Regions from separate parts of the Homo sapiens genome. Here regions 1, 3 and 4 are each linked to region 2. The links come from fine-mapping of genetic effects on gene expression. A gene starts in region 2. Each other region holds a variant in brackets. All regions are shown on one strand. Distances are between the middles of the regions.

What was found. PIP is the estimated chance that this variant, and not a neighbour inherited with it, causes the effect.
Region 1: its variant is fine-mapped to the expression of PRXL2A in whole blood (INTERVAL, PIP above 0.99).
Region 3: its variant is fine-mapped to the expression of PRXL2A in whole blood (TOPMed, PIP 0.96).
Region 4: its variant is fine-mapped to the expression of PRXL2A in whole blood (INTERVAL, PIP above 0.99).

Annotation. Positions count from the first base shown.
Region 1 is chr10:80,244,875-80,251,190 of GRCh38, forward strand. It overlaps LOC100130698 (a long non-coding RNA gene), which reads left to right and starts at 2,884. Exons shown (of 6, transcript NR_136612.1): 1 at 2,884-2,963; 2 at 3,797-3,898; 3 at 4,589-4,649; 4 at 4,760-4,797; 5 at 4,866-4,927. It also overlaps the pseudogene EIF5AP4. The variant A/G (reference allele first, on the strand shown) is at 3,835.
Region 2 is chr10:80,405,311-80,412,998 of GRCh38, forward strand. PRXL2A (peroxiredoxin like 2A) reads left to right here and starts at 3,241. Exons shown (of 6, transcript NM_032333.5): 1 at 3,241-3,333. RefSeq lists a silencer at 3,020-3,309 and enhancers at 3,595-4,188, 5,035-5,534.
Region 3 is chr10:80,430,907-80,438,594 of GRCh38, forward strand. It overlaps PRXL2A (peroxiredoxin like 2A), which reads left to right. Exons shown (of 6, transcript NM_032333.5): 6 at 1,080-6,209. The coding sequence ends at 1,193. Among named protein-coding and RNA genes, the nearest start is that of TSPAN14, 20 kb to the right of the region's middle. The variant G/A (reference allele first, on the strand shown) is at 3,342.
Region 4 is chr10:80,439,639-80,447,326 of GRCh38, forward strand. No RefSeq gene overlaps it. Among named protein-coding and RNA genes, the nearest start is that of TSPAN14, 11 kb to the right of the region's middle. The variant G/A (reference allele first, on the strand shown) is at 4,289.

The sequences.
Region 1 (6,316 bases), 160 kb before region 2:
AATTACCATCTTAACCTTGTTGAAATGTACAGTTCAGTTGTGTGAAATATATTCACATCATTGTTCAATTATTGTTTTCTAGATGTCTTATCTCAAGTCTGTCTTACAGTCACAAAATGTCAATGACAGAACACGGATTTACAGGGGAAAGCCTGCAGGTCCAATAGCCGTAGCCAGGAAGGTATGCTATCTGTCAGAGTCCCCATAGTGTGGAAATGAGTTTGCCCTTTTAAGGGAAAGAACAGCTTCTGGCCCTCAGGTTTCTCCCCGTCTCCTCTCTACACCCTAACCAAGGGCTCAGGTCCACTTATATGCACACGAATAGAAGGATTTTATCCTTTGCAGGAATTAAAATGGACCCAAAATACCTCTTTACATTATGGAGATCTACAGAAGCTAAAGTGCAAGCCAAAGTCCAAAAGGTGATGATGAAGGTCAACAGTCATTGCGAAATCTCTGGGCAAAGAAAGACTGCCGAGGAAGAGTAAGATGTTCACTGACACAAACACTGTTGTATGAACCATGTGCCAACCAAAGTAGACAACTGCAATGTCCCCGAGAATATTTTCCACAATATTTGTGGCAAATTCAGTGGGTGCAAAACTGAGCTTGTCCTTCCTGCTTGATTAATCTTCGTGTTTCCTTTCCCTTCCTACATTCTTGATTGTAATGTTTTAGGGGCAAGCGGAGGTCCAGGTACTGGCATTGTTAAATTCAATGCTTGGGTCACCTCGGGATTCATTTTCACAGTCTTTTAGCTTTTGGTCATATGACATTGTATTTTTCCTGCCACATGACTAGTCTTTTTGGCTAAATGTAAGACACTCGTTAAAAATATTTAGCAATGAATTGAGGCCGACTAGCATGTTATCTTGCTGCAGAAAAGATGGGAGTCTATTTCTGGGGAATGGGCAGGGGTCCTAGCACACCTAGACACCCTCCATACCATCCGCAATTGAGGTTATCAGTGAGGTTCAGTCCCTACAAAAGTCAGGGTGTTTCCTGTCCACCTCTATTCCTGGCGTGTGACTCTTCTGGGTCCCAACCAAAGCCAGTGGACTTCAGTAGGGGTCACCGTCACTAGCAGACCCTCAGTCTACTTGTTTTCCATCTAGTCCTCCACATGGTGCAAAAGCTGCTCTGCTTCTTTACATCTCAGTTAGTCCCTTCTGAAATTCAGTGATGAAACTGAGGGAAATGAGCCCCAAATGTGAGGCTGACCTTCGTCCTGGGTTCCTTCTTCTCCATCTTGGCCTCATGTCTCTTTATTGCCATTTTAGCAATTTGGTGCTTTCAGTCATGGGTTTTAGATTCTGCCCCATGTCCCCATTGCTCTCATGGGAGATCAGAAGCTTCACATGCACTCATGTCTACTCCAGAGCAGAATGCTTCCTTAGCTTCCCTCCAGGCTCAGGTTTTGTGTTTCTAGTTCCCAAGTTCACAGCAGGAGTAGTGATGTCCTCACTGGCTTCTCATTTGCGTTAAACTGTGAACTCCTTTAGGGTGGGGACAGGACCCTGCTCCCATTGCATCCTCTGCACCTCACAAGACACTCCTTGCTTCAGGCCACTCCAGACACCGTGTGCTGAAGGGTGCCCTGGGTGGTCAGAAACAAGTGCATGAACTTTCTCTTTGAAGTGTTTTTGTCCCTGTTTCCTAGAGTTCTTGGCATTTTACACGTCTTTCTTTCTTTCTTTTTTTTTCATATTAAACTTGTAGTTTTATTCAGGTTTGATTTTAACAAATGTGTCGGGGAGAGAGCCCTCAGGGAAGGGTAAAGCCCATGGGGGCAGGGCCTTCCCAGATGCCTGAGGAGGGGGCAGGTCCCCTCCCCTCTCCTCCTCTTCCCTCCCCATCTAAAGGGGTTTGGGGAGAGACACAGGCAGGCGAGGGGGCTGGTCCCCAGTCTGTTGGGTGGTGCTCAGGGTAAAGGGCTATGGGCAACAGGGGACCAGACCAAGGATGAGTGGGGAGGGCACAAGGACCATTTGCCAGAATCCACTGCTTTCTGATTCCAGATTGAATTAAAAAAAAAAAAAAAAAAAAACTAAACCACAAGCAGCACCCACCCCCTTCTCCCCCACCAGGGCTGTAGTGTGAGGGGAGAAGAGGAGGGCAGCTTCACCAAGGCCACGGCTTTGCTCGCTCCTGGCCAAGGGAGCTAGGTGAAGGGCAGGGGCTCCCTGACAGATTGAGGGGGTGGGGAAAACCAAAATAAAACGTCAAATAAATTGTGTAGGAGGAGTCCAGCCTAGGACCAGGCCAGAGCCAGGCCAGGCTGGGGGAGGGGGCCTCTGCAGGTTCGGAGGATCACTGCTGCCACCACTGCCACCTTGGGAGCCAGTTATTTTGCCATGGCCTTGATTGCAACAGCTGCCTCCTCTGTCATGGCAGACAGCACCGTGATCAGGATCTCTTCTCCACAGTCGTACTTCTGCTCAGTCTCCTTGCCAAGGTCTCCCTCAGGGAGACGAAGGTCCTCTGGTACCTCCCCGCTGTCCTGGAGCAGTGATAGGTACCCATCCTGGATGCCAATCAGCTGGAAGTCATTCCTTCTGATGTTGGGGACATCCATATTATGAGTTGACGGGCAGATATCTTCATATTTCTTCCCAGTAAAGATGTCAATACCAACCAGATGGACCTTGGCGTGGCCGTGCTTGCCAGTCTTCGAAGCAGACATCTCCACGATCTTACATGGCCAGCCTTTGAGCACCACAAAGCCATTCTTACGTAATGCTGAGCACTGCATTGGGAAGGTGGCTGAGGCCCCTGCATCTCCTGTCTCGAAGTCCAAATCATCTGCCATTTTAAGAGGCTTCGATTCCAACTGGCGCAAACGGCACTGACTCGACCCCGTCCGCTCGCCGCGAGCCCAACCGCTGCCTCCGAGCCCGCCGCCGCCGCCGCCGCCGCCTCTACCCAGGCATTTTACACGTCTTTCATATGAAATCAAGTATCAAGTGAGATTTTTAGAATCAGAACCATGAATCAAGTAGTGTGAGGCAACACAGCAAACCCACCTTTTTAGGCCATTTCCTTTTTTCTGCCCTCAGTCTCTGTGAAACAAACCTTGTTAAAGTCTCTGGACACCAGAGGATGGTTTGCAGTTGTCACCTATTTTCAGGACATAACACCCTAACTAAAGAGCCATTGGATCATTTCCAATTCAGTAGATGCACCCAGCACTCAGATTGGCCTTTTCTCTCAACCAGGATCTTTAAAGTCGATGAGAAGAGTTCCAGTCCTGAATCATGGACATGTGCAGTAGTGAACCGCAGGGCTAATGACAGCATGTCCTGGAAGGATCTCTCTGAGGCTGATTGTCTGGGTTCTGGCATCAGCCTCTGATGGAGAATCAGGTCTCCCTGTGGGAGGAGTCAGACGAGGAGTGATCCGCTGCTCCGTCCTTATGGGTTTAGTTGTGATGAGCTGGTGAGGTCTGGTTTTCCACACTGAACTAAAATGAGCTTTCGCTATGTCAGGCAAAAGACTGATCCCAGAAGCACGCATAGCGCATCTCATAGAAGCTTTTAATAGTTCATATTTACTAAAGAGTAGGAATACAGAGCGATGAAGATGAGCTGGAAACGACAGGTGACTTGCCAGCAGGCCAGAATGTGCTTTTTCTTTGTCCCATGGAAGGTGTTAATTCTCTCTCCAGTTGTGAGGATCAGTTGGTTCATTTATGGGAAGGTTGTCAGGGGACCTTTGAATCACGGCCTTCAGATGCCACAAGGAATCCCACACAGGCCAGTGGATCACGTGCATGCATTTCTCTCCCTTCTCGACTCAGGAAGCTGAGAATGAAAGAACGTGAACGAGAAGAAAAGG[A/G]GAGGCGGCTGTCAGAGGTGGAAGAAACCATGAAATTGGCTCTAGAAAAAATACCCATCTGCAAGTGGGTTCAGAAACCGACACCAGCCTCTTGGGGAAGCGCTGGTGGAGTGTTTTGTTTTAAATCTTTGTACAATCTTTAGACCCAGTTAACACAGAAATGGAAACAAATGGTCAGAAGCGATACCTAGAGAGAGAGACAATTCACACAAGAGAACACACGTACCTTAAGATTTACTAGTGTTCAAAACATGTGAAGTAGCCAAACATCTCCTGACTGCAATGCCAGCCAGACTGTGTGGAAACTCGGTTCATACCAGCCGTTCTAGGGGTGATGCGAGTTGTCATCATCCTTAGGAAAGTGTGTTGTTGTAGGATCAACCCATCCTTCAAAAGGACTGTGCCTGTTTATAAGCTCAGCTGTTTCTGCCCTGTGAAATATGGCAAGGATATTAATTCCAGGAGAACAGAGCTTTATGATAAAAGATGCCCAATGAAGCATGAATTAGGGACATACTGAAAATGGGTAAGGAAATTGTCAACTCAGAACCCAGCAGGCATTAAGTAAAAGAGGAGGAAGCATTACAGCAACAGTTTTGATCATACTGTACTTTTATAGCCATGTGAAATACATTTTCTATGTATAGATAGATTGTGTAAGGGTACAATTGTGAGGACAACAGGAACATGGCAGATTATTTAAAATCATACTAAAGATGATGCTTTGTCTGATGAAAGTGATTCTAAACCATAGATAAACGATTCAAGACAGACAAGAGCTGCAGCAGTTGGTAGAGGACTCCTACAGATGAGAGGTAAGGAGCCTTCCTTCCTGCAGTTGCAGGATCCTTAAACGCTCATCAAGATGATGCCACTGCCCCTAGAATCTGTCAACATACATTTTCTCATGTGTTGGCTTTTTCAGATCGCCCCTTCTGCTGCAAGAAAGGCCTCAACAACTGGGTAAGTTTGTTCATTTTTCCCTTGCTTTTCGGCCAAGTCGGGACATGGATGTATTTTTCTCCCCACAGCTCTGTGCTCAAGCCTTGCAGAGGGAGATGGCAGAGAGGAAGGCTGCCGGCAAGCAGCACAGGTAGGTGATTGTGATGGACAAATTTTAAGGATGTTTTTGTTTTAAGATGAAGCTTTGACTGTCTAGTAAAGAAAACAGTGTTTTAATTCTTCTACAAGTCAACTCTTTCACTGTCTTCAAGACAGGAAATGATGGAAAAGCAGGGAGTGCTGGAGAGACACATGAGTCAGGAGGCAGCCCAGGGACAGCTAGGGCTAGAGAACCCTTTCTGGAGAGGTAGGAGCTCTCTGGGAAGGCACCCACTTAACTTCTGCTCCACAATCCACACCCCTGCTTCTCCTTTCTGGGGTGAGGGCTTGGGTTGGGTAATTGTTATGTTTCCTGGAAACAGTTCCAAGCACTTACTAAAGAGAACAGTTATCCCGCTGGGTGGCAGGACCGTTTTTCTCACGTGCCACAGCTGAATGACTCTTGGCTGGTCCCCTGTGAATAGCGGAGCACAGGCCCCTCCACTGACTGTGGACATCATTCCACCCTGATGTCTTGGTTACTTTTAACTGAGGGGATGAGCCTAGAAGGCAAATGGGTCAGCTCCCCTTCCAACCTTGAGTCAGTGGGAAGGCTTTATTTTTTTTATTATTATTTGAGAAAAGTAACACTAATAACATTTTAGAATGGGAGCCATAAGTGCTGATGAGAGCAGAAATTTTCTGGCTATGTCTTCATGGATCAATATTTCTTCTTTTCTTAAAGAATCAGAAGACATAGCCAGAAAACAGAGAAGACAAAGGTAAATGCTGGAGTCATTTTCCCTCTGCCTAGTTCAGGACAGTTTTGTCTTTTCCTACAGCGCCCTCTCCTGGCCTGTCCTCTGCTCTCTGGGTTCTGTGGTGCCTTTTCTAACTGGACTTTTTTGAAAGCAAAATCTTCCCCATGAGCTTTCAGGCTTCTCCATTTCCAGCTGGTCATCTTTGGTGGCACCTCCAGAAGCCATAAATGCTTAAGGGCCAAGGGCTGCAGGGCTGTCACTGTTCTGTTTCCAGAAATAACATGAGAGGATGCCATTGAACTCCACTGAGGTAGGTCTTATGGCCCAGTAGACCCTGACTGATCCCTTTTACTCAAGATGGTGTGGGATCCCCTTTCCAAAATATGTGGGGCTTCCTTTTTTTTTTTTTTTGCTGTGATTTTCTTTTCTGCTATGAGGTAAGTGATTAACCTTCAGAATATCCGCCGTAATCCCAGAAGTGAAAACTCATTGATCCAACATTAATATGTGCTTTGTGCAATTTTGAATGTTCTTTGGCAAAGTCAATTCCATAATTCATCACAGTCCCATCTCTGTTGTTAACTGTGTTGAGCAAAAACGCCCCCACCCTCACCCAGTGTTGCCCTTGATCTAATATTCTAAGTGTCAGAGGTTCCATATTTTAATAGAAAATGTGCCCT
Region 2 (7,688 bases):
ACTGAATAAAGACTCAGTTAATGTTAGTTGGTAGTGCATGCAATGATGGTTGAGGACACTTGAGACAATCCTGCTTTCTCAACCTGGGGGCAGAATAATACCACCATCTAGCCCTCAGTCAGCCATCGGTTCACCTGGTAAACCATTGGCCACATTTATGGAAGGTTTTAGAAAGAGGTCCCTATTGACTTTGCTTTGCTTTGAGACACACTGTGGAAGTATAGGATTTTTTATGCTTAAAACAAATAAGAAAGAGCTGAATTCAGGGATATTGGCATATAGAGAAAATATTTGAAGCTGATCTATGCACATCTATTTTTGAGATTCACATACAAGTCTTGTTCTTGATTTCGCTTTTACCCATCCACAGAATGGTAACCTGGGCCTGACATATTGAAGTGAAGTATCAGTTTTTGCTCTATTTTCATCTTGATGCTAGCTGCTTCCTGACTGTTCCCAGCGAGCCCAGACACCACAGGGCCATAAGCTTAAAAAGATCATGTTACTTCAGTCACTGCTGAGTAGCAGACGAAGCTGAAGCCAGCTGAATCTAGAAGTGCTATGACGCTGAAAAAGTCAGGAGTCTTTACCCAGATCTGCCTCCTGCAAGCAGTGTTTTCTGCCTGCCCTATGGGACTTGTGAGGGACAGAAAAGTTTCCCAGCCCCTGTCAAGATGGTAACATTATCTAAAGTTATCACAAAGCTTCTAGTCAACCTTAATTTCTACCACCTGAAATTCAGAACCTAAGGCTATTTTACAATCTTTACAAAATTTAAATTATTTTTCTCTTAAAAGCTGGGCAGGTTGGTGGGTTTTCTTGGTTTATTCTTCAGGTTTTTTGTTTTGGTTTGGTTTTTGGTTTTAGTCCTTGAGCTTTGTAAATAAGTTTTCCTGCGCCTGCTTGCCTGTAACTTATTTTTCTGGTCTAATGACTGTTTTTTAATGAGTTCAGCCTGTGCTTTCTTGTACAAAAAGAAACGTGGGCATGTGAGGAGCATATTAATTAGCTATCAGATGTAGCCTGGTTTTTGAAGTCCAGATCTTCAGGATGTTACCGAAGTGTAAATATAAGCATGACTTTTGCACGTGATTAGTAATTACATCACAGTTAAAGCCTCAGGGGACCTTCCACCCCAGAATTCTGCTATCCTCAACCCCTGAATGGCTCTGTCATTAATGGTCAGTCTCCAAGAACTCATTTCCCAAGGAAATGACTTCCTGTTTTGTTCTAAGTGGCCTTCCCTGCAAACCCTCCTCACCTTTGAACTTCCTATTTTGGGATGGAAAGATTGACCCTTCTCCCGCTCCTCTTCACAAGGTAAGGAGAAACAAGGGAGAAGAAAGAAAGGTCCTCTGGAGAGAGATATATGTATCATACATATCTTATACATATATCATATATATCTTATATATCTCATATATATCTTATATATATCTTATATATCATATATATATATATATATATATATATATATATAAAACTACACCCGCATTGCACCAAAGTATACGAAATATTTTCTGGCCTTCAAATCATATGCCTAACTCCTGCAGGAAAACTGCATGGGCACTCAGGCTGATCTCCCTTACCCCACAACTTAGATCCACCTCTCACGTTTTCTAAGTTTATTTCCACGCTGTCCCTGGGCCAGGCTCTAGGGTCCCAGAGGTGAAGTGGAGGAATTCACAGTTTGGTTGAGGAGAGACCCCCTTGAATAGATCAAGCTCCCCAAGTGTTGCTGTAAGTTTACATGGAACATGGAGTCTGAGTGGGAAGTCAGGGAGGTGAATCACGGAAGCCTTTGGACTTTGTACACCTGTGGGCAGCTCCCAGATGAAGGGGGGAAGGTGTTGCAGGCAAATGACCACCTTTGACGGGCGGACATCGGCCTGCTTTGCCACTTCACCTTATGCTGCCCTGTGACTGGTCTTTGCACTGTGTCACCGATATGTCTTTTTTTTTTTTTTTTGAGACGGAATCTCACTCTGTCACCCAGGCTGGAGTGTAGTGGCACCATCTCGGCTCACTGCAACCTCCACCTCCGGGGTTCAAGCTATTCTCCTGCCTCAGCCTCTTGAGTAGCTGGGACTACGGGTGCGCGCCACCACACCCGGCTAATTTTTGTATTTTTAGTAGAGACGAGGTTTTGCCATGTTGGTCAGGCTGGTCTCGAACTCCTGCCCTCAAGTGATCTGCCCGCCTTGGCTTCCCAAAGTGTTGGGATTACAGGCATGAGACACCGAGCCCGGCCAACCACTAATATGTATCGTGAGTCAGCTCTGCTGTCTCTGAAAGTCCAACCTCCTACTTTTTGTTTTTTGTTGTTAAGACAGGGTCTTTTTTTTGTTTTTTAAAGACAGGCTGGAGTGCAGTGGCGCGATCTGGGCTCACTGCAACCTCCGCCTCCCGGGTTCAAGCGATCCTCCCACCTCAGCTCCAGAGTAGCTGGAAATACAGGCACGCGCCACTATGCCTGGCTAGTTTTTGTTTTTTACGTAGAGATGGAGTCTTACTATGGTGCCCAGACTGGTCTTGAACTCCTGGGCTCAAGCGATCCTCCCAAAGCCCTGAGATTACAGGCGTGAGCCAGCGCGCCGGACACAACCTCCTACTTTCATGAAAGAGTGGGCACTTCCAACAGGAGGAGTAAGTGGATGAGCGGTGTGTGACACACCCGCCTCAGCGTCGCCCGGAGTCCGCAAGGCTGCGGCTCACCGTTCTCTGCCCCATAGCTGGCATTGTGGAGTGAAAGGGAACGTGGGTGGAGGATTGAGGTTGGAAATTCTGAATCTGTACATACAGCTTGAAGGGGCTCATCGAATGTGTCGGTCCTTTAGATTCCCCCTGCCCATGGAGGTTAAAAAAAAAAAAAAAACCTATCAAAAGAGCTATTCAAAACCAGGCTGAAGATTGGAAGGAAGTTGGCCAGCCTCGGCTGCAGGACAGGTGCTTCCAGGCTCCATTAGGGGTGTCCAGCGCCTTCTTTTGCCCTAGGCAGCGCCCTGAAGAACGCGTCGGGGCCTCGGTTCGCGGACTTGAGGAGTGGACCGACCGAGCGCTGTGCGTAAAAGGACCGCTGGGGCACACGCCCGAGCGCCACCGGAGCTAGGAGACCGCGGCCCGGAGGTCGGCGAGTCGGGGGCAGGCCCGGAGCTCCTCCCACGGGGGGCGGGGCGGGTCACATGGCGGTGGCGCGGTAGCGCGCGATGCAGCACAGGCTAGAGGCTGCGCAAGCGCGGGGCCCGCCCCTGGGACCCTCCGGGCCGGGCGGTTTGGCCCCTTAGCGCCCGGGCGTCGGGGCGGTAAAAGGCCGGCAGAAGGGAGGCACTTGAGGTAGGTGCTGCGCGCCGGGGCTCCGCGAGGCACGTGATGTCCGTAGGCGGGGCCTGCCGCGGCGTAGGTGGGGAAACTGAGGCAGTGCAGGGCCGGTAGGGTGGGTGCTGGGCTGGTGAGGCGCGCCCCTCGGGCCCGCGCCAACTTTCTTAGGAGCCGCCGCAGCGCTGGCGCTCCCTCCGAGGACGACGACCCTTCCGCCACCCTGCGTGGCGGCCGATGGAAAAACCCTGCGCCCAGACGTCGGAGAACGGAGACGGGGACCCGGCGCTGCTGCGGCGGGCTAGGGCCCCCTCTGTCCACGCCCGCAAGCCTTGAGTGACGCCGGTGGCGCCAACCTTCGCGAATTGTTGGGACAAAGAACAGAGGAGAGGGCCCTGCCCTGGAGCATGGGCCCGGGGGCCGCCCTGCTGGACCAGCCCCAGGTGCGGACCTGGCAGTCCTCGTCCTCGTCTCTGTGCCCGCTTAGGGTCGTGTCTTTTAAGAGGGCACGGTTTCTAGCGTTGTTCAGCGTTTCGGAGGCACCTGTTCCCCCTCTTTCCCAAGAGTCACAAACGCCTGACTTTAAATTGGGTAGAGCCCAGTTGTAAACTTAACAGCCCTGCTGAGGTCTAGGAATGAAAAGATGAACAATCTGCCCCCAGGGTTGTTGCTGGAGCGGGAGGTGAAGGCGCAGGTGGAGATGGTTAGAGGCAAAGGAAGGGAAGTCAAGGCCCAGCCGGTCCAGGGCTGTGGGAAGGAGGCACACCCGGGAGTCCACTGCCGGACCGGGGTTCCCAGCTGCTCCTGCGCCTCTTTTCCTTGCCACATCATGCTGTCTGCACAGCCCAGCAACCCAGAACTCAGCTTTTTTGTTTGTTTTATTTTAATGTATTTTCCTTTGAACCTGGCAGGTGGTTTTTCAAAAAGAAAATAATCAAGATTTGTTTTGAAAAGCATTGTGAAAAAGTCAGCTTGAATAGTCTTGAATGCTCCTGCTCGGGCCCAGCTTTGGAGAATGAGGATTGGGATTTCCACTGCAGACCCCGACTCGTTACCATACTCATTCATCAGAAAACTCTTCATTTTGTGTACAAATAACGTTTTGAGGGTAATCATTGCTCTAGAAATGAAGAATTATACATCGTATTTATTGCACTTTTTGTAAGGTACCTCACAAGGCACCTCCTATACATTTAATCCTTTGATTCTTGCAACTCTGTAGAAGGTAATTAAGGAAGCATTCCCATTTTACTGATGCAAAACAGTTCCTTGTCCAGGTTTATACAGCTTGCAAGAATTAAAGTTAGATATTATTCTTGGTGTGGGCCTTTCCTATATCCCCGTCTTTTATAAGAGCATGTCATTTAGTTGAGACCTTCTGCATTACTTCTGAAGGGGTACAAAAGACATTTCTGATGATTTTCTCATCTCGTGTCATTTAAATGGTGCTCAGAAAGTTTGGATAGGACTGGAACTCTAGGGCTCAAGCCCCAGGCTCTGTCCCTATCTAAGCAATAGGGCAGCTGTCCTGCCAGTTGGGTTCTTGCTTCTTTGTGAAATGTTGAGCAGAAGCTCCAAGTCTCTCTGCTGTGGCTTGTGTGGCAAGAACCATCCTGAGGTTCTGTGCAGAGAGCCAGCCTCACCTTTGAGCTCAGTGGCCTCTGGCACAGGGAAATTACAGCTGGGCAGTGTCCTTTGCCTTCTCTGGCACTGCTAGTGCAGGAGGCAGTGTTAGCTGCTACAGGAATAGCATGGAGCGGGCCTGCAGGCCAGAGGGGCTGAGACAAGCCAGTGTTCCCACCAGACCTAGAACGTTCACCAGAAAGCAGGCCTGCAGTGACACAGCTGCAGAAGTTCACTATTTTGTGCCTGTCCTGCTTCAGATATCCTGTCTTTATAGGGGCACGAGTGAATCTGAGCCCTGCAAAAGAGAGAAAGATAATGCTGCTTTGCCGTTTTCTAGTGCGTTACCGCATTAAAAATTGCTCTTCTTATATAATCTTTATGACAACTCTTTAAAGTGCCCTTGTTTTTAAGAAGACACTGAGGTTCAGAGGGATAAAATAACTCTCAGAGTCAAAGAGAGAAAACCCAGGATTATTGGCTTTTAGCCCAGTGTCTTCTGTGGTATTGCCTTGCCTTCCTATCCACACCCATATAACTTGATGAAGCCGGAGTTCTGAGCCCAGACAGGAGGCTGTGCAAGTGAGATTAGAATGGCTTGCTCTTTGAGGGGTGGGGGGCCCTACAGCTTGAGGAAACAAGAGGACATAATCAGCTACTGGGAAACCCTGAGATACGCCCAAGAGTGAGGAATGTGGGGGCTGGTGCTGCTTTCAGCATCTATTCAGAGGTTTCTGAATCTGGCATTTGAGAGTAGGACTGGGCCAGAACCAGGCAGATACACACCCCAAGGAGCAGGGCTGAGAGTTGGAGACTGAGGCAGGTAGGTGAGAGCTCATTGCAAGTGACTGATTTTGTGGTATATGAAGACAAGGGTGGGTGGAAGGGCATCTGTTGCTCATAAGGCTCTGTGTGCCTGCATCATCAGTATGCTAGACAAGGATGGACAGAGTCTTGTTATTGTGGGGAAGAGAGGTGCAGAATGGCTTCTCAGCGGAGACTAGGCAATGAGACCCTTAAGACATTTGGCTTCAGATTATAAGCTGCTTACCAAGGATTGGGCTTGGGAGAGGCTGATGATGTTCTCTCCAGGCAGCAGATTTCCCAGGCCCTGTTTACGGGCAGTCTTGCTCTTAGCTTGCCTGAGGCCAGTGAACAGGCTTCAAGACCTGCAGGGCCCCACTTCCTGAGCCCAGACTGCCATGCTATTCCAGCCTTAGAGGCCACTGGCCCTTGGCTGGCTGCCCAGGACCTAGCGTGTCTGATGCAGGATAAACAGTCATGGACTGGAAGTTGGGAGACCCAAACCTGAGTCCCAGTGCAGCCACTGACAACCTGCCCTGCCCATGTGACCTTGGACTAGCCAGCTCCTTCTCTGAGCTTTAGTTTCTTCATTTGCTCAGTAAAATGAGCTGAACCAGCGCTTTGAGGGAAGGAGAGGGAAACAGAGGAGACCAGAGAAGGAAGATGAAGCATCCTTTCAAGACTTGTTCACTGAGGGCCTGAGGCAAGGAGGCCCATGTGCACTCTTAGTTTTTTGTCTCCCTCAGCACCTTTTCTTGCTTCTCCCCTATCTCTGCCTCAGGCCAGCTCATTCTGAAGAGGGACGATTCCCTGGGTGGGGCTGGGCTGGGCAGGTGTACCCTTGATGTTTAGAATATGATGCTGTCTCTACTTGTTTCAGACATGATTTAACTCAGCCAGTGCTGATACTTTGTTTCATTAAGACTTTATCAGTTCCTGCCCAGAGGCAGCTCCTGGAACAGTCAGGAGTTAGGCCCAGCAAAGGAGGCAGGGTGAATGTGCACACCCAGCAGAAGAACAGTGGTGGCAGGGGTTCCCATGGCTTTCTAGACATCAGATCCCTGTAGTTGCAGTCACATGGTACTTTAGAGTCTTTGGATGTCAGAGCTAAGACAACCTCATAGAATTTTGAGTTCCTTCCTCTGTATAGATGATGAGATCCAGGCCCCGAGTGTCTTCATACCTTAAGTCAGATTGCCCTGCTAGTGAGCAGTAGAGCGAGGACCCAGCCTAAGGTTACCTAAGTCCCAAGCTAGAGTGTTTTCTTTAATATCAAGCCAGCCCTGTCCAAAATTGCCTTTCATACTGAACTGAAATTGGAATTGAGTAGTTATAAGTTCCAAGTCTGCCTCACTGTGGAATTCTAAGAGTAAAATTCAGATAATTTAATTAACATTTAATGCCTGATAATTACCAGGATCTGTGTTGAGTGCTGGGGATGCAGGAATGAAGACGACAACACATTGTGCCAACATATTGTGGAGACAGACATGTAAATAACTAAAATTTACACAATTCATTTGTGCATTGTGCAGGGTTATGGGTGTGTGCGCACACACATGCACGCTATAGAAGAGGTCAGTGAGCAGTCAGTTGTCAGGGCTTTCAGGAAAGGCTTTGGAGAGGAAGTGTTATGTGTGCTGGGCCTTATGAATAAGTAGGCATTTACGTGGTTGGCCTGGGTCAGAGGGGGGCATCCCGGGCAAAGGAAACAACATGAGCAACACTTGCTGAAGCCAAGCTGTGGAGGGCCCCATCAGCTGGCTTGCTGAGGAGTTTATTGTTAGTGAGAGTCTGAACACAAGGGAAAGGTGTAATCAGGTGGGGGTGTGCTGGGATCGCTCTGACTACGGCTTGGAAAATAAACTATAGAGGACCAGACTAGAACCAAGCCAGATTCATTCTGTGGTTCTTGAAATAGGCTAGGGACAGAGTTATAGGATCCT
Region 3 (7,688 bases), 26 kb after region 2:
TTAGATGGAGTCTTGCTCTGTCGCCCAGGCTGGAGTGCAGTGGCGCGATCTCGGCTCACTGCAACCTCCGCCTCCCAGCCTCCCAGGTTCAAGGGATTATCCTGTTTCAGCCTCCTGAATAGCTGGGACTAAAGGCTTGAGCTACCGTACCTGGCTAATTTTTGTATTTTTAGTAGAGACCGAGTTTCACCGTGTTGGCCAGGCTGGTCTTGAACTCCTGACCTCAAGTGATCCGCCCACCTCAGCCTCCTAAAGTGCTGGGAGTACAGGTGTGAGCCACAGCACGCAGCCTATTAGTATTTTTAATGTCTGTATTATGGTTTACTGAGCAAGTAAATATAATTTTCTGATCTGCTTGCCCATAATCTCTGCAGTGTGGTGGGCCTTTTTTTTTTTTTTAAGTCTTTATAAATAATGACACAGTGTATTTACAGATTTTCTTTTTAAGATGAGTTTCCAGATGTAATGAATCAAAGAACTCTAACAAGGATTCCTTGATGCTGATCTCAAACATGTTATTTTGTCTTTTTTTTACTACCTCCAACTTTAGATAACTTTGGGGTATCTTGTGTCTTAGTGCATTTTTTTTCACTGTATGAGAAGAAAGTGGCTTCCAGTTTCTTAGAAGACTAAAGAAAAATGAGGGTCTCTCTTTTAGATGGTCATTCAGTGCCTTCCAAAGTCTAACCTCTGAGCTCCACTTCCACACCTTTGGGCCTTTCTGTGTTAGCTTCATTTTTTTCTCTTCACCTGGTATGTTCTTTTACCTGCATCTCTACTTGTAGACATCCTGGTTACCCTCCGTGCCTCTGTGAGGCCTTCCCTGATTGCCCTTGTCATGCTTTATCACTTCTGACTTCCTGCTTCTAGAGCTGCTGGTACAGGCCAGATGGATGTGGCCTTCTCCGGTCTATCTTCCCTCAAAGACTGAACTCCTTGAGGGCAGGAGCCAGGCCATATTTGGATCTGTGTCCTTTGCTATTCAAGCAAAAGGCTTGACAGACAGCTGGTCCTCGATGCCTGTCTCATGAACGAACGATTTAGGATGAGGACTGACATTATCTCTTGTTTCCTTTTAGGGCATTCTTCTTGAGCACCGAGAAAAAGAATTTGGAGACAAAGTAAACCTACTTTCTGTTCTGGAAGCTGCTAAGATGATCAAACCACAGACTTTGGCCTCAGAGAAAAAATGATTGTGTGAAACTGCCCAGCTCAGGGATAACCAGGGACATTCACCTGTGTTCATGGGATGTATTGTTTCCACTCGTGTCCCTAAGGAGTGAGAAACCCATTTATACTCTACTCTCAGTATGGATTATTAATGTATTTTAATATTCTGTTTAGGCCCACTAAGGCAAAATAGCCCCAAAACAAGACTGACAAAAATCTGAAAAACTAATGAGGATTATTAAGCTAAAACCTGGGAAATAGGAGGCTTAAAATTGACTGCCAGGCTGGGTGCAGTGGCTCACACCTGTAATCCCAGCACTTTGGGAGGCCAAGGTGAGCAAGTCACTTGAGGTCGGGAGTTCGAGACCAGCCTGAGCAACATGGCGAAACCCCGTCTCTACTAAAAATACAAAAATCACCCGGGTGTGGTGGCAGGCACCTGTAGTCCCAGCTACCCGGGAGGCTGAGGCAGGAGAATCACTTGAACCTGGGAGGTGGAGGTTGCGGTGAGCTGAGATCACACCACTGTATTCCAGCCTGGGTGACTGAGACTCTAACTAAAAAAAAAAAAAAAAAAAAATTGATTGCTGTGCCTCATTACAAATGCATATGATGTTTGAGTGCTGTTGTTTGAAATTATTTTTCTTTTCGGGTCTTCAAAAATTCAAGAAAAGTTGATGATTGACTTGAAGATTACAAAATTTAAGGTTTTTTGGCATGTGTGTTTTCTATTAATAATTGGTTATATGATGTCAAAGTAATACTTTCATAATAGAATTGACATGCTCTGGGATAGTTTGACAAAGGTAAATTATAAAGTGAAATCTCTTGTTTCATTATCTTCCATTCTAACCTCAGAGATCTGTTTCTCTAGAAAAAATGTCCATCTCTGGCTTTAATAAAATTATGCATCAGAAATCACCTGTATGTATAAGATTTTCTGATAAAACTAATAATTATATTTACCATATAATTGGCTGAAAGTAAAAAAAGTCAGCATTCTCCATGGCTGAGGGGTAAAGTGCCTCGGGGGATTCCTCTGGTTCTAGCTATCTAAGTGGTTTGAAAATGACCAGGAAAAATTCATCCTGTCATTCACGTTAGTAATTTTGCTGTCTTTCCTAGAGGAATGACTTTGGTGTTTAAAATTGGTAGCTGTTTTTCTATTGGTCTTTTAGCCTAATTTGGCAAATCAGAAGAAAGGACATAGAGATGATGAAATATAACTTTATCTTTTTTGTTTGAATTTTGTCGTGTAAGTTTGAGTGACATCATCAAGACCTACCAGGGAGCTCGGCCACAGGGAGTCTACTCAAGGCATCAAACTGGCCCAGGAGTAGAAAGGTGGGGGTGGAAATAGGAAATAGTGTTTACCCAGGGGACTGGCCCAGCCAGGAGGAGAAAGGAATCAGTGTTTACCCAGGAAAGCAAGAATGGATACTGATGTTGGAGGTAAAGCTGGGAAAGTAGGAGAGCATCGGGATTGAGTATGCAGAGTGAGTTAGGGTTGAGTGGTTCGGGACTAAGACCCACTAAGACCATGCCTGCACCTGACTTCATGTAGCAGTGGTTGCATGGGGTATGCATGGGCCCTTAAAGGGCTGGGCTTCTGCAGCATTTGAGGCCATAGCCTTTGGTACTTGCACAGGGTTGGTACCTGTCATCCTTGGGACTCCAGCTACTGATAGGATAACTCAGTACCTAAACTTAGAACTTTAATACCTAAGACACTTGATGGTGAAACAGTTCTCTTGCAACTAAAGAAGAACCTGAGGTCAGGTGTGGTGGCTCACGCCTGTAATCCTAGCACTTTGGGAAGTCGAGGTAGAAGGATCACTTGAGGTCAGGAGTTCGAGACCAGCCTGGCCAGCATGGTGAAACCCCATCTCTACTAAAAATACAAAATATTAGACAGACGGGGTGGTACATGCCTGTAATCCCAGCTACTTGGGAGGCTGAGGCAGGAGAATCGCTTGAACCCAGGAGGCAGAGGTTGCAGTGAGCCGAGATCGTGCCACTGCACTCCAGCTTGGGCAACAAGAGCGAAACTCCATATCAAAAAAAAAAACCTGAGAGGACATTGCACCAATGGAGATGCATCAAGAGAAACATGTTTGGTTTTTTGTGAGCTCTCACCAACTTTTTTCCCCTGGGTCCTCACGTGCAGTGTG[G/A]TCTTCTCTTTCTGATTAGCATGTCATTTTGGAAAGAGCACTGGATTGAGTCATGAGGCATAATCAATTTCTAGTTTACCAGTGTGATCTTAAGCAAAGATCTAACTCATTGGCAAAATGGGCGTGATTCCTTCCCATTCAGGGCTGTTTATGATAAGTCACTGAGGGAATGATAAATATTATGACACTGCTTCTCAGACTGTAATGTACATGCACATCACATAAGGACCTTATTAAAATGGAGACTTAAAAAGCTGGACGCTAAAGGCAATAATGACAGATTTTACTCAATAACTACTGCAGAAGGAGAGAGTCCTCAGTATAGAACTGAGCTTAGCTCCAATCTGTGCAGAGGTGATGGAATTTTAAAGAGGGGAGGGAGGAGGTTCAAATAGAACTAGGGAAGTGCAAAATTACAAAAAGCTGGTAAGGAGATTGGTCAATGTGATTCGGCTATCTGTGTCTACTAACTCTCAAATTTATTTATCAAAGTTAGGATCCTAGCCTCCCACAGAGACCAGGAGTCGGCCTTATCATTCCTGATAATTATATGACAAAGGGATGGCTCCCAGAAAAAGTGAGAAACACATTCCTGTGCAGCAGAAGATACATATATCCCCCAAAGGGACAGAAAGGATTTACAATTGTAAATTTTATAAAGTATGTCCTCTAAGAAGAGGGAGGGACTGGGTGCCATGGCTCATGCCTATAATCCCAGCACTTTGGGTGGCCAAGGTGGGTGCATCACCTGAGGTCAGGAGTTCAAGAGCAGCCTGGCCAACATGGTGAAACCCTGTCTCTACTAAAAATACAAAAGTTAGCCTGTTGTGGTGGCGCGCACCTGTAATCCCAGCTACTCGGGTGGCTGAGGCAGGAGAATCGCTTGAACCCAGGAGGCGGAGGGTGCAGTGAGCCGGGATCACGCCACTGCACTTCAGCCTGGGTGACAGAGTGTGACTCCATCTCAAGAAAAACGAGGGAGATTAGAAACCTATGATCAGGCATTGGCTGAAACAAATGGTAAATTCTTTTGGCAGCCTTGAGCTTCCCCAGGCAGGGACCCAAAGGGGCCTGGGTTATCCCTGAGACAGGGCCTTGAGCTGCTAGAAACTATGCTAGTGTTTGTTCAAGTCTCTCCGTGTCCGGGGTGAGCAAAATTGTTTGTGCTGAAAATCAATGATTTGCAGCTCTCAAGATTCCAGTGGGCAGTCTGGGTGGGCCTGAGTTTCTGCTTTTTTTTTTTCTTTATGTACAGGGTCTTGCTCTGTCACCTAGGCTAGAGTGTAATTAGTGGCCCCAGTCATGGCTCACTGCAGCTGCAAACTGGCTGCAAGCTGTTCTGGCTCAGCCTACCAAGTTACTGGGCTTACAGGTGGATGCCACCGTACCCAACAGATTTTATTTTTGTAGGGATGGGGGTCTCCCTGTATTGCCCAGGCTGGTCTCAAACTCCTGGCCTCCCAAAGTGTTTAGATTACAGGTGTAAGCCACCACACGTGGCCAGCCTCTGCATTTCTAACAGGTTCCAGGTGATCTTGATGTTCTGCTGGTCCATGGGTCACACTTTGAGAAGCATGGTTCTAAAGGACTATACAGATTAAAGTCATTAATCTCTGTGGGCTTTGGACTTGAAGTTTCAGCAGCCTTTGACAAGCATTTGCAGGTTTCCTTTTTATTTATTTGATAAACTGAGAATCCACATGCAAAGAAATGCAAGAAAATTCAAAGAACGTAAGAAAATGTCCTTGCTGTAAAGCTGGTGGTTCTCAATCTCGGATACACAGTAGAATCACCTGGTGCGGGGGTTGGGGGCGGGGTGCAGTGTAAAAATTATTAAATCAGAATCTCTGGGGTAGGCCCCAAGCAACTTTTTTTTTTTTTTTTTTAGATAGAATCTTGCTTGTCACCTAGGCTAGAGTGCAGTAATGCAATCATGGCTCACTGCTGCCTTAACTTCTGGGCTCAAGTGATATCCTCCCACCTCAGCCTCCCTAGTAGCTGGGACTACAGGCGTGGACTACCACACCCAACAAATTTTTAAATTTTTTGTAGAGGCAAGCTCTTATACTATCTTGCACAGGCTGGTCTCGAACTCCTGGGCTCAAGCAGTCATCCTGCCTCAGCCTTCCAAAGCTCAGGGATTACAGACATGAGCCACAGCACCAGGCCAACAATATTTCTTAAAGCTCCTGGAGTGATTCCAATATGCAGCCAAGGTTGAAAACCACCCTTTAAAAGGCTCGGCATCCAGTGTGGAAGACCAGCACACTCACGTCAGGAGACCTTACCTGGAGCCAGGATGCCCCTGATCATCTCTGATAACTTTAAAAGGAAGGCCTCAGAAGCAGCCCCAGAAGCAAAAGTTTCTCTCTGACCTTCTCCTGCCCTCTTGTTTCTGGCTTTTCATTCTCCCCCAAGGCTACCCATAGAAACTAGAATCCCTCTTCCCCAAGGCAGGTCATCAGAAACCAGAACCGGTTTTACCCAAAGCCAGCCATAAAACCTAAAAATAGTCCTCTCACTCCCCATTCCCCTTTCTGTGTAAAAACTGGTTGGAAAGAAATGATCTGACCTACCGTGTTTGACTGTCGTAAGATACCCATTCCAGAGAGGGTCCCACCCCGTGCCCAGAAGGAAGGAATCCTGCACAGAGAGGCCAAGAAGAATCTAGACAGCCTTGCTGGGTTTCCCCTCTCAGTCTATTACTATTAGATCATACCCTTCTTGTCCAATCATATTTCTACACAGTCCATAATCTGTTGAACCTAAACATAAAAATGGACAATTCCCCTGTATCTTGGGGTCTTCATTCTGAGGGCTCACATACAATTATGATCAAATAAATTTGTTTGCTTTTTCTCCTGTTAATTTGCCTCTTGTCAGTGATTTTTTCAGCAAGTCTGCAGCGGGTGAAGGGCGAGTTTTTCCTTGGCCCTAGCAGTGGCAAGGGTCACAGATGGTGTGGACAGGGGTGCATGGGGAACCCCCAGCTGGAGGAACTTCCAAGGCAGAGATTTGGATAGCGAAGCATGGCTAGGGGAAAACGGAGGAGTCTAGTCTGTTTTGTTTACCTGGTTCTATGTCCTCTCTCCCAGTATGCAGATTTCTCAAAAGCAATGCCTGTGTCTGCTTCCTCTCTTTCCCAGAGCAAAGCATACCATTGCAGTGTAGGGGAGTGGAGGGCAGGGAAGGTGAGCTGTGGGGAAGAGGCTGTAGGGGCTGTGAGGATAGAGGGTGGATGCAGTCAGGGCAGACTGCAGTTTCTTCCCAGCACTAGCTGCCCTCCCTCCATTCTGGGTTGCCAGTGCCCCATGGGGCAAGCAAGAAGGTGTGTATTTGTCAGTTTATGTTTGGGAGGGGAAGGGAAAGAAAGTTGATTTGTTCTCATTTAACCCTTCAAATCCTTTCTACATTTAAAGGAGGATTTGTCATTTTGTTTTGAAGACAGTAACAATTGAGGATGATAGTGGGTTAGATCCCTGGATTAGGGAGGTGTGGGGAGGTCCTTTCAAGGACATGCTTCTTCCAGCTGTACCTGGTCACCTTTCTGTATTATATAATGATGGTCAAGGTCAACCCACACACTAGTTATTGCAGTAGGGGATAGGAGGCAATTCTAAATTTTACTGGGAGCGATGGGAATTCGTTTAGAGGGTTTTTAGAAGAGTGACATGATCTGATTTCTATTATTCTGGCTGCTTTGAGAGAATAGATTTTAGAGGATCAAAGGTGGCAGCAGGGAGCCCATTTGGGAGGCTGGTGCAATGATCCAGGCAAGAGAGAATGGTGGTGGCAACCAGGTGGGAGCACAGAAGATAGTGAGAAGCGTCATGATGGATATATTTGAAGGCAGAGCTAAGAGGATTCTTTAACTGTTGGATGTAGGATGTGACAGAAAGAGGAGCTAAGAGGATTCTTGAACTATTTGGATATAGGATGTAAGAAAAAGAGCAGTCAGGGTTACCTTCATGATTTTTCTCCTGGACAACTAACTGCTCATGAATTTTTGATCATTTTACAGCAGAAAATGATGGGGTAGTAGAAGGTTTTACTGTGCTATAATAGTTACAATGAATGAATGAGAGGTATAAGTATCAACTTGGATGCACCGAAACAAGGAAGGAAAAAAGCTTCAGAATGTACATTCAGTAGGATACAGTTTACATAAATGTGTAAGGCTTGCAAACAGTATTGTGTAAGCTCCATATATAGATGGTAAAAGTGTAAAGACAAATACAGAATAATTACAGTCAGGGTTGAGCCCCATCTGCGAGCCTCACACTAAACAAAACAAAACGAAAAGAAAAAACATGCCATTGCTCAGTCCAGATCCTAGTCCAGTTAAAC
Region 4 (7,688 bases), 34 kb after region 2:
TAAAAATACAAAAATTAGCCGGGCATGGTGGTGCGCACCTGTAGTCCCAGCTACTCAGGAGGCTGAGGTAGGAGAATCGCTTGAATCCAGGAGGTGGAGGTTGCAGTGAGCCGAGATCATGCTACTGCACTCCAGCCTGGCCAACAGAGCGAGACTCTGTCTCACAACAAAAACAAACACACAAAAGAAACAAACGTTGGAAAGGATGTGGAGAAAAGGGAACCCTTACACACTGTTGGCAGGAATGTAAATTAGTACAGCCATTATGGAAGACAGTATAGAGTTCCTTAATATAGAGTTCTTATATGATCCAGCAATCCCACTACTGGGTATTTACCCAAAGGAAATGAAACCAGTATGTTGAAGAGATACCTGCATGCTCACGTTCTTTGCAGCACATTATTCACAATAGCCAAGATAAGTATACATCAATGGATGAATGGATAAAGAAAATGTGGCATATGTACACAAAGGAGTACTTTTCAGCTTTTAAAAAGAAGGAAATCTAACACTGGGTGTGTTAGTGCACATGTAGTTCCAGCTACCCAGGAGGCTGAGATGGGAGGATTGCTGGAGCCCAAGAGTTTGAGACCAGCTTGGGCAACATAGCCACACCCCATCTTTAAAAAATAATAAAATAAGGAAATTCTGTCATTTGTGACAACATGGGTGAACCTGGAGGCCATACGTTAAGTGAGATCATGCAGTATCTGTCTTTCTGTGCCTGGCTTCACTTATTTGTGGAATTTTTTTTTTTTTTTTTTCAAAAATTGAACCCATAGGCCAGGCGCGGTGGCCCATGCCTGTAATCCCAGCACTTTGGGAGGCTGAGGCGGGTGGATCACCTGAGGTCAAGAGTTCGAGACCAGCCTGGCCAACATGGTGAAACCCATCTCTTTTGTATTTTTGTACTAAAAATAGAAAAATTAGCCAGGCTTGGTGGCGGGCACCTGTAATCCCAGCTGCTTGGGAGGCTGAGGTGGGAGAATTGCTTGAACCTGGGAGGTGGAAGTTGCAGTGAGCCAAGACCACACCATTACACTCCAGCCTGGGCGACAGAGTGAGGCTCCATCTCAAAAAAAAAAAAAAAAAAAAAAAAAGGAACCCATAAAAGCAGAGAGTAGAATGCTAGTGGATGGTGAAATTCTGCACATTAGATGGGCTGGGGGTGCCATTGGATATCACCCCTGGAAATGAGATGCACCACTGGGCTAGCAGCCTAAAGCTATACACCAGGCTGACTAGGGAGCCTGCCAGGAGGTGTAACTGACTCTGGGTTCATGTTCTTTATGAGCTCTTTGGTACCTACCTAGGAGTCAGTGCTCATAAAAGAATGATAAGAAATCTGTCCCTGACCATGGCAGATGTTGCCTCCTTCACAGCCACTGTTTTGGCAGCCCTGCAGACATCCTTCATTTCTCTTGGGAAGATTGTTTTACATACCAATATTGCTCTAGACTTTCTTTTAGCCCAAGTGGGAGGAGTGTGTGCAATTGTTAACACCTCCTGCTGTACCTGGATAAGCACATCAGATTTCATAGAAACACAAGTAGGCTGGGCGCGGTGGCTCACACCTGTAATCCTAGCACTTTGGGAGGCCAAGGTGGACGGATCACCTTTGGTCAGGAGTTAGAGACCAACCTGGCCAACATGGTGAAACCCCATCTCTACTAAAAATACAAAAATTAGCCAGGCATGGTGGTAGGTGCCTGTAATCCCAGTTACTCAGGAGGCTGAGGTGGGAGAATTGCTTGAACCGCGGGCGGTGGAGGTTGCAGTGAGCAGTGAGCCAAGATTGTGCCATTGCACTCCAGCCTGGGCGACAAGAGCAAAACTCCATCTCAAAAACAAAAAAAAAAAAAAAGGAAAGAAAAGACACACAAGTAGAAGAAATTCAGGAGCAGACCCTCACAAGCAGAAAAAATTCAGGAGCAGGCCCACTGGCTGCAGACAGTGGGGCCACCTGAAGGATCCTTCTTAGACTTCCATAGCGACTTCTTAACTGGATCGCTGTGTCCAAGGCTAGGTCATGCTCCAGGCAGCCCTGGTTATTCTGCAGTTGTAGGGGTCCTCCTGGGCCTCGTGAAATGGATTCTGGCTATGGCTTAATGATGTCTCACTGGGATTGTGTCAGTTAAAGTGTTCTCGAACTAATGAGACAGACCAAACCCCTGCCTCCAAATCCAGGGAGGTTGGTGGGATATGAAATTGACCAGCTTCGCTAAGGGGGATATCTGGGTTTCGGATGGACTACAGAGCAGTTCTCCAGATGGCCTTGGACTGACCCAGTTCTCCCAGCTTTCTCACTGTAGTTCTCAAGAATAACTGTAGAATGTGCTGGGAATGCAATAGCCTGAGGTCAGGAGGAACTGGCCAGAACAGCCTGGGCTTGTTCCTGTCCCTGCTATGAAAGAATGCCCTTCAGGCCCGGAGAGGCGGCTCACGCCTATAATCCCAGCACTTTGGGAGGCCAAGGGGCAGATCACCCGAGGTCAAGAGTTCAAGACCAGTTGGCCAACATGGTGAAACCCTATCTCTACTAAAAATACAAAAATTAGCCAAGCGTGGTGGCGCACACCTGTAATCCCAGCTACTTGGGAGGCTGAGGCAGGAGAATCACTTTAACCCGGGAGGCGGAGGCTGCAGTGAACTAAGATTGTGCCACTGTGCTCCAGCCTGGGTGACAGAGCAAGACTCCTCAAAAAACAAAAGAAAACAAAACAAAAGATGATGACGAAGAAGAAAGAATGGATTTGGGGAAAAAAACAAAAACCAGCAGTGTCTGCCATAATATATTTATGAGAAAATACATGAAAACTTGTAACAGTATTTGCTCTAGGAACAGGATACTGGTGATTGGGGACATAAAGGAGAATGTCCCTTTTAATACCCTTTTGAACTTTTATAATCTGTTCCATATGAGTATATTAACTAATCACACACTTTTAACAGAGTAATAAAAATGCACCATACTGCGTGCTTGGTAAACCTCTCTAGCTAGTTCACTGACAAGAAGTTTTGTGCCCTCACCCTTAGCCCCTCAGAGAGGGCTATTTGTGTTGTGAAACTCAGGCCACATAGAACTGTAAGAAATCCATTTGATTCAAGGAGCATAGGAAATCTCATGGGCCTGTATGGGCAGGAGCCTGGAAAGGGACACAAATCCAGCTAAGTGTCCTGGGGGGTGCCAATCTTCCTGAGCCAGTGGACCCAGCTGTTATTGGCCCTCCCTTGTGCCCTTCATGACTGTGCTAGGCTTCCTCAGGGGGAGAGAAGGCCAGTTCTGCTGCTAAGCTCTCACCCCAGCACTGCTTATACACAGAGGCAGGAGGAGGCCAGATGCCTCTGGCCAGGAGGGGCTAGGGTGTGGAGCCTGGGGGCCAAAGCACAGCCAGCTCCTGGGAAAGCGGGTGCTGCTTGAAGCAGGAAGTCTTTAAAGTCTCTGCCATGCAGAGCTCTGGGCTGCCCTTATCGGACTCTCATCTTTCCCCAGCCTTCATGACTCAAGAGAGCCAAATTTATGAACCTCGTCATTCTTCAGTTGATGATAATTTTTAGAAAGTAGATTTTCCTTGAGCATTTAAACATTAAATGTAATCAGTTACACTCTTCCCAACTGTAATGACTCAGTCTCATAAATGTTTAAAACGCCTTTAAAAATTGACAAATAATAATATAATCATTACAAAACTGGATCTGTATATGCATACTAAAACCAGTTACAAATGCTAATATGTGGTTCTAAATTTGCTTCTTTATTATTTGCAGTTAGCAGCCTTAGCAGCAGGTGGCAAGACATTATGTGCCCAGATGTTGCTGTCCCATCCTGGGGACCTCAGAGTTGGCCATGCCACACCTTCCATTGGAGGCACCCAGACTCTCCACGGTCTGCACCACAAACCCCGGTCCTGGGCACATCGACTGGACCGGGGTGGACCCTGGACCCTAACTCAGGCCTCTGTGAACTAGCCAGGGACCTGTAAAACCTGTACAAAGTTTTTCCCCAGAAGGGGCGCAGATGGTGACAGCTGACCGGCAGAAGGCAGGGAGGAGCCCTGAGGGGAAGCTGGCCAGAAGTTGCTGGCACTGTGGAGATAAATGAGATACCAATGTCTCAGTGAGAATAGAGAGTGGGTGACGTGGAGGCAGTACTAGATCCTGACCTCTGCTGGCCAGTTCTCCTAAGGGCCTGGCTGCAAGGTTGTGCTGGGTGGCTTTCTACTTCCTGTGCTCAGACAGGCAAAGGAAAATAACTCAAAAGCTGTTCTAAGCCAAAGTGATGGCATGT[G/A]CCAAGTGCACAGGAAATAGAAGCTGGTCCAGAAATGTGTATGCAAGAAGTGAGGGGAGCAGGACTGAGTGGAGGGCGACATGGAGCTGTGAGGCCTCAACTGATCCCACAGGAGCTCTGAGTTGAGATCACCCAGCAGATGCCCCGAAATGAGACAAGGGGCTTTGTAACTCCCACCCATCACTCGTTTAGTGGACATAGGCTGCACCCTGCACCAGGGATGGGGGTGGGGCAGAGCCCTGGTGGGGGGCAGCTTCCTTCTGCCAGGGGCAATTCCAAGTGAGTGATCTAATCTAACACAGTGGGTCCTGAAGTGTGGTCTAGGTGGTCACAAACCAGAGGTGACAGGCTAGGTCACTGTGTGTGAGGCAGGCCTGTGGTCAGAATATGGTTGGAGCAGCCCACTCAGAGGCCAGGCCTGGTTAATCCCTGTAGAACAATGGAAGGAGCTGTGTTCATGAAATGAACCTCTAAGGGTTTGCAGGAGGAGGACTGATGGGATCAGATTTTCTTTCTAGTGTGAGGGAGGGGGAACCGGAGCTCAGGAGAGGGATCTGGCCACAAAGATGGGTGGGGGCGGTGCACAGAGGATTCTAAAGACACAGAGTGGCACAGAGGGCAGAGAGCCTGTGGAGATGAGAGGGGGAAGAAAATGGTGTTAGATGTTCCCAGCATCTGGGAAAAGTAGCATTTGTAGGAAATGGGGAGCAGGATCTGCAAAGAGACTGAGGAGGAGCTGCGTGCAGGACACGTGGTCCCGAGTGGGTAGAGGAAGAGAGCCAAGGGCTCCAGGAAAGAGAGAATCAGCAGTGCCAGACAAGGACTGAAAAGCCCTCCCTTCCTCCCCCAACACACAGAAAGACAGACTGACACACACGCACACACACACACACACCCGTGGTTTAATAAACTTGGAGTTTCCTCAGACTGCCTCTAGGTGGCAGTGTATGCACGCGGCATCAACTGCTGCGCAGCTCTCCCCGGGGACTACCAGATTCTCCATGGAACCAACTAAAACTCCCCAAAGCTGTGTGACAGGGACAGGGAGAGGTACCTGTGATGTTTGCAACATCCATCTGTTTTCTGCTCTGTCTCAGATGAGTCTAGGTGTGCCTCTCTCCCCTACTTTGTAGTGGTAGGGGGAACTTTCAGTGGCTCTCCTAGCAGTGTCTGCGCCTAGAGGTCCCAGGGCCTTAGCCGACCCTCAAATCTCTAGGTGTGAGATTGAGACAGACTGGGGACTCAGGTGTGGTCATAAAGCTGACAGTCCTGCTTCTACCACTTATCAGCTAGGTGATTCCCTCTGAGCCCCCTTTCCACATTTATGTTACTAAGTCAGAGCTTTGTGAAGGTCAGTTTGCATGACATTATTCCAGAAGTAACACTCTGTGCTGTCAAGTGGCTTTGACATCTGCACAGATCCCATAGTTCCCTGGGTAGACATGAGCAGCTCTCCGGCCTGAGTGGACCTAGCTTTCAGGGGCAGAGTTGGGACTTAGCCCGTGCAGTCCGATTCCTGGTATTATACTTGCTCTTAACATCTAGGATCTGCTCCCTCCCTTGATGTCTTATTTGGCCACATCTGGGGTTTTCTTCTTTGGCAAAACTTTCTTCTCCCATGTGGAGTCATTACAGTGTGGTTGATGCACAGGGCTGAAAGGGCCGTGGGATGTCACCTGTTGAACAACCTTTCTTTCTCTGCCACCTTCAGTTTATGAAATGGAACAACTGAGGGCAGAGAGATGACAGGACTCCTTGTCACCACCATCTGCTTAGACAGTCTCAGATGCTATAATTAAAGGGTGTTCCACTGTGTCTTATCCTCACACATGGGCTCCTATCACAAATCTTAGTCCTAATTCTTTGCAGGGGACGCCACTGGCAGGCAGAGGTCCCATGGCTGAGGCTGTAGATGCAAATAAGAGTAGAAACCTCCTAGAAGTTTGCAGATTCCTTAAAATAGATTGTTCTGGAACAAATAGGCCAAGTATAGAATGACAGGCCAAGAAATAAATTTCCTTTCTGTTCTCTTTTCCCCAAGGCTCCCTAACCTCTTTCTTCAAGAAAGGCAACACCAGTGCAAAACTGACCTTGAAGTAAAAGTTCTACCAAAGATGTTGGCGCCTAACCCATTGCCATTGCCTGCACTCCAAGTCCTGCCATATACTGATGGAGTGACCCATCTTCCCACTAGCCTCTTGGTCCTGACCTCCTCACCCTCAGGGCCATTTGTTTCTCCGTTTCTTCCATCTCAATCACCTGGTCCCATGGATACACACCTCTGTCTGACCACAGCCTTGTGTCACCGTATCTCCCTTCTTCACATGCTGAGGGCCCTCCAGCCGCAGCCTCATCTTCTTTCCCCCTATCTACTAGCCCCTCCAGCTGTCACTTCTCTCCCCTAGTAGCCAAGCCTCAGGATACAACACCTCAACTGCTTTATTTCCAACCTTCTGGAATCCTTTGCACCATTGTTTTTCTATCATGCTCTCCCGGCAAACCCCAGATTTTGATCAATCCTGCTGTCTGTGCTCTCTGCACTTGCACATACTCCAGCTGCTGAGTACTGATGAAAAAGGTCATGTAATCTGAGATGTGTGTCACTCTCACTCTGGGTCTCCATTTGCAGCTGGGCTTGCAACCCTTCCCCAAACATTCCTGCTTGCCCCTGCTCAGAGGTGTCTCTCGTTCTCTCCTAGGTTTCTCTGAAATCCTTGGATCCCACCCAACACCCACTTAACCTTCAGCAGGTGCCCATTCTACTTCCAGAGAAAGTGGACCCCTTCCCTTAGGAAGCCCCACCGAACCCACAAACATCTGCATCCTCACCCAGCTTGTCTTCCTGCCTCCTGTCTCTATGAAGGTCCTGCTGTCCTCCAGTTTGGGGCTCTCCTCTTGTTCTGAACACCAATCCTTCCCACCTTCTCCAGCAAGCGTTTTCTCTCTTCCTTCAGACTCTCTTATCTCCCCTCTTCTCTTGCCTTCTCCCTTCATCATTTAAACATATTTGAGTCTCTCCTTTGTTTTTCTTGTTATTTTCTTTTAATAGAAACAGGGTTTCACTATGTTGCCCAGGCTCACCTGGAACTCCTGGGCTGAAGCGATTCTCCCACCTGGGCCTCCCAAAGTGCTGGTATTACAAGCATGAGCCATCGTGCCTGGCCCAAGTCTCTCCTTTCTTAAACAAACACCCTCCTGCAACTGCTTATCCTCATCATCTTCCAGTTAACAACCTCTCTCTCATTTTCCAATTGCTGTTCAGCCCACTGTTAACTGTCTTTGACCCAATTCTCCACTGAAACAGTTCTCTGAAGCTATTAACCCCATGGTTGCTCTTCAGCCTTGTTTCACTGGCCCTCTGCAGCCCTGGAAACTGGACCACTCCCCTCTTCTTGAAACA